Homo sapiens: one gene and its partner. The protein of the gene in region 2 purifies or fractionates together with the protein of the main gene of each other region. This does not show direct contact. Each region holds a gene or a part of one and is shown on either strand. Other genes may lie near its edges.

Evidence for each region.
Region 1: the proteins of LCN1 (region 2) and PDYN purify together in Homo sapiens (affinity purification with mass spectrometry; 3 studies listed by BioGRID and IntAct, with this or other methods). This does not show direct contact.

What each region holds. Positions count from the first base shown.
Region 1 is NC_000020.11:1,984,025-1,991,064, reverse strand, and holds part of PDYN (proenkephalin-B preproprotein), read left to right. Parts: intron 1-4,112; exon of another isoform or gene 4,113-4,959; intron 4,960-4,965; exon of another isoform or gene 4,966-5,070; intron 5,071-6,648; exon of another isoform or gene 6,649-7,040.
Region 2 is NC_000009.12:135,524,440-135,527,080, forward strand, and holds the end of LCN1 (lipocalin-1 isoform 1 precursor), read left to right. Parts: exon of another isoform or gene 1-63; coding exon of another isoform or gene 64-390; coding exon 391-492; coding exon of another isoform or gene 493-668; exon of another isoform or gene 669-692; coding exon 693-718; coding exon of another isoform or gene 719-719; intron 720-1,904; coding exon of another isoform or gene 1,905-2,078; 3' UTR 2,079-2,101; downstream 2,102-2,641. UniProt on the Homo sapiens protein: Could play a role in taste reception. Could be necessary for the concentration and delivery of sapid molecules in the gustatory system.

The sequences.
Region 1 (7,040 bases), on a different chromosome or scaffold from region 2:
TATTGTGTTCACTTCCCTTCCCTTTTTTCCCTCTTCTTCCCCTCCTCCTCACCCCCTTCCCTTCTATTCCCATTTGTCCTCTCCCCATCTCTATGTCTCATCTTATTTTTTCTTCCCATATGGTCCTCCACCTCTCTCTGCTTTTTCTCGGTGTCTCGGTCTCTTTTTCTGTGTGTGCAGTTCTCACCTCTGCCATTCTTTTGGGCCCCTGTCTTTTTCTCTGTGTCTATATCTCTAACTCTCTCTTTTTACATCTCTCTCTCTATGTCTCTTCATCTCCATATCTCTCTAGCTTATCCTCTTTTTGCCTTTCTCCCCATCCCTTAATTGCACCAGATAACAAAAAGGGTGGCGGTTCCATCCAAACCTTGCTCTTGAAAAACGTTCTTTTAAATATGCAGTGAATGATCCCACCAGGACCACTGCCTGCAAGGCCGTCTTTCCCTCTGGTCTCTGCACAGCAAATGCAGCCGACCACCAAACGGGACCCTCATCCGATTCTGTGCTTTGATCTTTGCCAGGCTAAAGTGTGGGTTTACTTTCTGTTCAGAACCCGAGCCTCCTTCCCATTGATCATTCGTCTTTCGTTACGATGCTAACACCTAACAAGGGGCACCGCTTTTCCAGGTTCAGGGGCTCCCTTTGCCAACCACCTGGAGACCCACAAGGGTGAACTTTACACTTTCGAGTGTGGGGCAAAAGCTTCTGAAATGGTTTCAACGTCAGGAATGTGAGAGTTTGGGAGGTTATCCGAAAGACACTCGATACATATTTAGGCCTCAGGATGGTTTGTGGCGTGGTCAGCAGACTGACTCTGAAATCTTATTCTGCTGTTTCCTTGCTTCTTGGTCTTGGCCCAGTCTTTTAGACTCTGAGCCTCTGTTTTCCCCATCTGGAAATGGAACTAATAGTTCCCAACCCACTGGATTCTCTTCAAGAGAAGAGAGAAATAATTGAGATAAAGTGGACAGCAAAGAGCTTGTCCCTTCTCATAGCTACACCCTAAATGAGGAATGCGATGGACTTAGAGAATTCCAACTCTGCCATGCTCTGTGACCACGGAGAGGCACTTTGTCACTTGATCCTCACCTTCCCATCTGGATCCCAAGCTGTAATATTAGCCCCTGCCCCGTAGGGTCCACGGGAGGCACCTGGAGTGCACGGGGCTGGTGCAGAACAGCGTCTCAGTCCTTGCTGGCTGTTAGGATGGTTGTCATTGCAGGGTCATTGAAACAATGGCATCTCTTTAGTGGGAGTCACGGTTCAGGTGTGGGAGGCTGGAGTTCTGTCTCCATTTCCCTCGTGACTCATGATATGACCTTAAACAAGTGACTTCATTTCTACCTTTTCCCATTTCCTCTTTCATCAAATAGGGGTAATCATATGCGCTAAAGTGCTCAGAGAGATAATTGCAATGTTAAATCAAGCCATTATTATTCCATGCTGGCTTTTTAAATAAAAACGCTTGCGGCTCCTCTGAGCCCTCAGCTGACTACAATATAGAAATATCATCGAGAAGCCAAGACGTCAAAAAGATCATTCCCTTTCAAGGAACTCTGGGCCCTGGGTGAAAAGAGGGTCTACCTTGTGCTGGCCCTTTAAGCAGTGCTGTCTCAGTGCAGGAAGATGATACACCCCAATCACAGATGAGAAGACTGAGGCTTGTGGAGGAGGTGGCACCAAATGACCGCAGAGCCCATGCCTTTCCCTCTCAAGGAAAAGGTAAATCCCAAGGCAAGCCTCCCCAGGTCCTCTCAGTATTTGCCAGGAGAGCAGTCCAGGCAACTAGAAAGGGCTCAGGGCTGAAGAATGGGGCCAGTTGCTTCCTGCCTCTTCCATCAGGAAACCCACCTGACCTCCTGGCAAGAGATCCATCCACTAGCAAGGCATAAAAAATGTTTTATTATTTAAGAATATGTTCAAGTGCCTGAGGACTCAAGAAAATTAGCTTAAAAACTATTAGAATCATAAAATGTTTATAAAACCAGTCAAAGTACGGTCAGCAAACCTTGTCTGTAAAGGACCAGAGAGTAAATATTTTGGGCTTTCTTGGCCCTACAGTCTCTGTTTCAGCAATTAACTCAGCTTTTGCAGCATGAAAACAACCACAGACATAGATGCAAACAAAGGGGCATGGGTGTCGTATTAGCCAAGGTTCTCCAGGGAGGCAGAGCCAACAAGGTGTGCCTATCCGCAGAAAGAGATTGACGTAAGGAATTGGCTCATGTGATTAGGCAGGCTGGTGAGTCTGAAACAACCCCACCTGTTAGGGGAGAATCACCCCACTGCCCCATCAGCCCCTCTTTCCCCTACTGGGCTATTACAAAGCACCCGAGGTAGCAGCTGAGAAAAAGCTTCACAAACTGCCAAGTGCAAAGGACTTTTCCTTGTGTGGCCTCCGGGTCCTTGGCCAAGTCTGTGAAAGAAGACCATGCAGGCCCTCCATCAGGGTCAGATACTGACATCATGCCTCCCGCTTACCAAGGGGGCTTGCTTCCCACTTCTCATCCCGATGATCGGCAAAGTTCCTTTCCTCCTTGGCCCATCCCTAATCAGACATGATAGGCAGGCAGGGCTCTCTCTTATGTGTGACTTCCCAGCTCCATTCCTTGGCAAATCCCCATCAGAAAGGTCGAAATGCTTCCCCTGGGGCCCATCTGACATTGTTCAGTAATGTATTTATCCTATAAAAGGAAGGAAATAGGATCACCTATGAAATTGTGAGGGCCAATGTGTCTCTACTAGGGTCCCCTTTTAACCCGGAGGGATCTGGACAGGAGCCCAACTCCCCCATTCATAACTCCAGGTGAACTTGGATGAGCAAGTTCCCCTTTCTCAGCCTCAGTCTGGCCCTCTGTAAAATGGATATTAAAAGAAAAACATGCACCTCTGGGGCTGCTGTGAGGATTGGAGCTAATATGTACAAAGCAGTAATGCACAGCCTGGCACCCAGTAGGCTCCTGAGAATCGGTGGCTGTTGCTGGGTTGACAGGATCATGGATGAAGGGCATTCAGCCCAGACCAACACCCAGCAGGCCCTCCGTCCACGGCAGTGAGTCATGCAGCAGCATTTTTTGTTTCTGCAGTGTGCCAAGCTCTTTATGATCTCTCCTTTTTGCCCTCTTCTTTTCCTATCCCCTACAGCTCAAGTAAGACTAGACTGGAGTCTTCATACTCCCCTCTCCAAAGCACCTACTATGTGCCAGGTGCTTCAAGCACAAGCTAGGTGCTTCAAATGTGATCATTTATTTAGTTCCTATGTCCACCCTCTGAAGCATTATTATTAGCCCCATTTTGTAGCTGAGAAAACTGAGGCACAGTAAAGCTAAGTCATTTTCCTAAAGTGGTGGTAAGTGGTGGGCTGAGACCTGAGCCCACTTTACTGACCACTTGGTGATCCTGCTTCGGGGTCAGGAAAGAATTTGAGGTCCTACCTCTCCTTTCTCAACAGCTGTGTCCCTTCCACCCCATGCTGCTTCTCCGAGTTAGAGTGGGTAATTCAGGGGCTGCAGACTCACTTGTCTGTCAGGCAGTCGGCAGTGAGGGAAGCCCCAGGTGGTTCCGCGGGTGGCGATGGGCAGTATGGCTCTTCCTCTGTGACTGTTGCCATATTGGAATACAGGCTCAATGTCCCCAGGCCTTTTGTTTTTTCAAGACAAATTGAAAATTGAGATTTTTTTAAATGTAAAAATTGCCTAATTTTAAAATATTGCCTGTTTATTTTCATAACTAATTGGTGTGCAGCTCCTGCTCTCATTCTAGCCCTGTATGAGGTACTGGGACACCATTCATTCATTCATTCATTCATTCATTCATCAATCACTCAAACTTCCTTAGTCTTCCAGTCACATTTAGATCAAATGCAAACTCTCCCTTGGCCTATGAGAGCCGGCATTATCCATCCTCTGCCCACCTCTTTGCTTTTTCACCCCAGTCTCTCCCTTACGTCCCTTCATGCACCCTGGCCTCTTTGTCATCCTCAAGCACAACACACTCGCACCTCAGCGACCCCCCTACCTGCCCATAAGGGACTGACAGGTAAGTGGTAATTTTGTGATGGAGCCAGCATAGGAGGCCGTGGGAGCTCAAAGGAGGGAACTAATCCAGATAGACTTCCTGGAAGAGGCAACTGAGGCTGAGTTTTGAATAATGAGTAAGAATTAGCCAGGTCAAAGTGTGATGGGAGTGGATGAGTGGGTTGAGAAAGATGTTCCTGTCAGAGGAAACCCTTTGTGCAAAGGCTTGGAGGGTGGGGTGTGTGGAGCATTTGTTTTGAAATTGCAGGTGGTTTGGTCAAGCCCAGGATGGGCAGAACTCACATCCAATCTGTCTGGGTGCTGTGTACTTGCTGGGATAGCTTGGACAGACTATATGATCTTTCTGTGTCCCATTTTCTCATCCATAAATGGGGAGAATATTAGTCCCAGTCTTACGGAGTTGTCAGAAGGACCCCCTTACAATAAGACACACAGAGTTCTGAGCACAGGGGCAGGCACACAGGGAGCACTAGCAAATGTCAGCTGTTGGTATTAGGAGAGCCCGGGGCTGCTAGGTGATGGGGACAATCTTCCTCTGGAAGCCAGTGGACACAGGGCAGAGGTGCAGTCAGATCTGCATTTCAGAAGGGTCCTCCAGCTGCTGCGTGGAAAGTGTCTAGGAGGGAAAGATTGGAGGCTACTCCAGAACCAGGTGGAGGGTCCACCTGGAGGGAGAAGCTGGAGGCTGGAGATGAGAGGACTGAAGGGGCCTGGGCAGTACACAGCAGTTACGAAGGTAGCTCTGGAGCCAGACAGCCTGGTAGGAATCCCAGCTTTGCCACTTACTCACTGTAGAATCTTGGCAGGCTCTAGAATCTTAACTCAGTTTCCTCATCTGTAAAGTGGGCATGGCAACAGCACCAGTGCTGTAGAGTTTCTGTGAATATGTATGAGTTAATCCACGAGAACTGCTCAGAACATCGTGAGTACTTCATTACCTTCAGATCAACCAGAATTATCATTCAATATAAAGTTAATGGATGAAAGACAAGGATGCCAATGCTGTTTTTGCCTGAGATAAAGAGATCTTAACGTGAGTCCCCTACCTTTGCAGCTAAGCTGTGTGGGAAGCCTTCGGCCAGGAGTTAGATGGTGTGGTAGGCGCCCCCTCCCCAGTAGGTTAATTCACTGCTGATCTTCTAACAGGCCAGCCCAGCCATCACTGATATCAGAGAAAACATGAGCTGCCCGCTTTGTATGGCTCACTGGTGGGGAACTGTAATCCACTCCGCAGCTGACAGACTCAAGGGGAAGAGAAAGACACAGGAGGGACACAAGTCCGCTTCCCTGACTTTTCCACTGAGCCTCCCTGGTTCAGGGGAGCCGACCTTGCCAGCCTCAAGCGAGGCACATGGGCCTGAGCTTATGCCTCGAATTGCTATGTGACCTCAGGAGATTTACTAAGCCTCTCTGAGCACCAGTTTTCTTGTCTATAAAGTGGGGCTAGTGATACCCACCTCTCACAGTTTGTGGGTAGGCTAAGTACAATACACAGGTCAAGGGCCTTGTATATAAAGCCCCTTGGATCTCACGGAGGGTGCAGCTGCCACTGAATTGAAGTTGCTCTAGAAATTGTAGTCATTAAGTGTAGGGGGTCAAACAGAGCAGGCCTTGCACCCCAGCTTCACTATTCGAGGTAGAACATGGGCAATTCACCAGACCAGAAGTGCCCGCTTCCCTGAAGGAATAAATGAGGTGATGAATTGAAGAGCTTAGAGCAGTAGGGATCTGATAAATGGCGGCTGGGATCACTATTAGGCATGCTCTGGTGGGGGAGCCTACTGCATGCTTTAACGGGGAGACCCTGCTCTGGCTACAGCGTGGGGTTCTGGGGCCCGTGGAGTGGAAGCTTCAAAACACTCTGAGCACCTGAGCAAACACGGCAGTTTGCAGGGATGGGGAAGTTGGAGGAAAAGAGGACAGCCTTTTCTGAGAGTAAATTGGTGTTGTCAGGTTACAAAGACCATGCTGGGCGAAGCATGAAGCCCCTGGCCAGGGTGGGGTGGAGTGTCTTAGAGGATCCAGTTGAAAGAACTGTACTGCGCCCCCATAAATCAAATATCGAGGCCCTGAGTCTTGATGTCTGATTTATAAAGCGCTGACTATGAAACAGACAACTTTTTTTTTTTGAGATGGAGTCTCACTGTGTTGCCCAGGCTGGAGTGCAGTGGCACAATCTCTGCTCACTGCAACCTCTTCCTCCTGGGTTCAAATGATTCTCCTGCCTCAGCTTCCTGAGTAGATGGGGCTACAGGTACATGCCACTCTTCCCAGCTAATTTTTGTATTTTTAATGGAGATGGGGTTTCACTATGTTGGTCAGGCTGGTCTCAAATTCCTGAACTCAAGTGATCTGTCCGCCTCAGCCTCTCAAAGTGCTGGGATTACAGGTGTAAGCCACCATGCCCTGCAAAACAGACAACTTTTAACAGAGTATTTATGAAGCATTAATTCATCTGCCAAGAATTTATGGAGGACCTGCGATGTGCTGGCCGGGGTTTTAGGAGCTAGTATACAGCAGAGAATAAGACAGGGTCTGTGTCCCCAAGGAGCTAACATTCTATTGGGGAGGCAATAACCACAACATACACACCACCAACAACAACCAAGCATCAGATAGATAGGAGACTATGAGGTGGGAGTGTTCTGATGCAAACAAAGGGTGATGTAAGAGAGAGACCAAGGAAGCCTCATTAGACATAGTGATCAGTAAATGCCTCTCTGCCAATGTGACAACTAATTTAATGACAAAGAAGGAACTAGTGATGTAGAAGTCTGAGGTCAAAATACTGCAGGCAGAAGAACAGAAAGTGCAAAGGCCCTGAGGTAGGAGCAAGCTTATTTGAGGAACAGAGTGACTATTTCAGAGAAAAAGACAAGACGTGGAACCAAATCCTGAAGACTCGCATAGCTAATTACCAAATAGTAGACTATTTTCATGGAAGAGGCACATGTTGCTGGGAGAATAGAAAGGAGGAGCAGCTCACCTAGCCTAGGCAATCAG
Region 2 (2,641 bases):
TCCCTGTCAGAGGACGAGGCCCATGAAGGCTCCTGAGTTCTCCCTGGAGCCAGGGGTGTGCGAATGACAGAGGATTGGGATCCTGGTGCCCCCAAGGGGAGAGGCGCTTCCTCCAGGGTGGGCCTGTCGTGCCGTCCATCCTCACTCCGGGAGATGCTCAGGGATGGATGGAGAGCCCTTCCCGTTCTCCCGGTTCTGCTGCCACAGGAGCCTTCTCAGCCGTGCACGGCACCCTGGTCCCACTTTGCCAGCCTGAGGGCCTCTGGGTTCAATTCCCCCCACGGTGGGCGAGGTCCCCTTCCCCAGCCCAGCTCAGGCCTCCAGACTGGGATGGGGTGCCGTCGGCCCAGTGCTGCCTCGAGCACCCACATCTCGTCCTGGCACCCACAGGCAGAGACCCCAAGAACAACCTGGAAGCCTTGGAGGACTTTGAGAAAGCCGCAGGAGCCCGCGGACTCAGCACGGAGAGCATCCTCATCCCCAGGCAGAGCGGTAGGAGGCATGGCCCTGCAGAGCCCCCCATGTCCCCGCGTGGGGACATCAGCAGAGCTGCATTGCACGGGCGCATAACTGTGCTGCGTCTAATTCTGGCTTTGTCCTTCCTGGGGTGGTGGAGCTGGTGGCTGATGAGGGGCCCCGGTCCTGACTGCATTCCTGGGGTCTCCTAACGCCTGTGCTTCCTTTTCCTGCAGAAACCTGCTCTCCAGGGAGCGATTAGGGTGAGTGAACAGCTTTAGAGGACATTTGAGAAAATCCAGTTCTGGGGCTCAGTGGTGCTTCCAGAGGCCATGGGGTCTCTCCCACCCATCCCACTCCTACCTGGGTGGGAGATGCCCCACGTAGGTCAGGCAGGTGGGAGCTCTGCTCCTGAGCTGCCCACGCTCGGGCGTCAGACTCCGTTCTTGCCCTGGGTGTGACTCCTGGGCAGCTGGGAAGCCCACAGCGCTGAGCCCGCCTTTGCTGGCTGCTGGTGGAGACGGTGTCTACCCCCCAGTCACATGGGCAGGAGCAGGCAGGAGATTCGGGTTCCTCCTCAGCACCCCTCACCCTCGGCCATGCCTGTGACTCCACTTACCCGATAAGTTGCTCAAAGATTCAGCAAAGTGGCAGGCGTGCCTGTGCTCGCTGTGTCAGATGGGCCCCTTGCTGGCTGCACAAGGGGACCAGAGTTTGGAGACTCGCCCAAGGTCACCTGCCCAGGTGTGGGCAGAGCCAGAATCCTGGACAGCATCGCTGTCCTTCCCGCACCCTCCCCTTGGCCTGCAGTCACCCTGATGCCACTTCACTCAGCAGGGAGCTCTGTCAGCAGCCTGCGGGGGTGGTCCCTGCTCCATCCGCTCCAATCTAGAGGCTGGAGCCCCCACCTGCAGCCCCCAAGAGTCCGTGTGTGCCCCCCACACCATCGCCCCCAAGAGCTCGCATGTGCCCACCACACCATAGCCCCCTAGAGCCCGGTGCACGTCCCCCACACCATTGCCTCTGAGATCCAGCACGTGCCCCCGCAACCATCGCCCCCGAGAGCCCGCATGTGCCTTCCACCGTAACCCTCAAGAGCCCAGTGTGTACCCCCACCATAGCCCCCGAGAGCCCACATGTGCCCACACACCATAGCCCCCGAGAGCCCACATGTGCCCCCCACACCATGCCCCTGAGAGCCCACATGTGCCCCCCACACCATCACCCCTGAGAGCCTGCTGTGCCCCCCACACCATAGCCCCCGAGAGCCTGCATGTGCCCTCCACATCACAGCCCCCAAGAGTGCAGCGTGTGCCCCCCACACCATGCCCCTGAGAGCTCACATGGGCCCCCACACTGCAGCACCCAAGAGCCCACATGCGCCCCCACATTGCATCCCCCTCCCACCCTTGCTGTCCTGGCCTCACTCACCCTCCCCCCCTTTCCAGGGCAGGGGACACCTTGGCTCCTCAGCAGCCCAAGGACGGCACCATCCAGCACCTCCGTCATTCACAGGGACATGGAAAAAGCTCCCCACCCCTGCAGAACGCGGCTGGCTGCACCCCTTCCTACCACCCCCCGCCTTCCCCCTGCCCTGCGCCCCCTCTCCTGGTTCTCCATAAAGAGCTTCAGCAGTTCCCAGTGACTCCGCCTGTCTGTGGGGTCCCTCGGGGTGAGAGGTGCTGGCTGGGTGCTCTTTTGGGTGCAGGGACTGGGTGGGAAGCAGGAGGAAGGACAGGGAACCAGCCTGGACCCAGTTCTCCCTGGTGGGTGCCACAGGCCAACAGTGGGAGGGGCCTAGCAGGGGGGTGTGTGCTGGAGGCTGGGCCTGAAGGTCCCGGGGTGCTTCCTGCAGGTCAGCCGCCCGCTGAGCTCAGGCTGTAGGGGTTGCGGGGGTGGGGGCAGGGCTCCACTCCTCGGTCCTGCACAAGTAAGACCGGAAGGCCTGGGACCAAGCGCAGCTGCCACCCAGAGGGGACTGGGCAGAGCCACCAGTGCCCTCAGCACTGATGCTGAGTCCGTGAGGCTGGACGTGGGGGGAGGGGACAGCAGCTCAAGGCAGGGTGTGGCTCGGGCTTGAGCTCACCGGGGAAGCCAGTCCTGTCCTCCGGGGAGCCACACCAGCACTGCCCCCAGAGCCTGGCTCCACGCTGTCCCTCTCTGTGCCTGGGTAGGTTTGGGACAG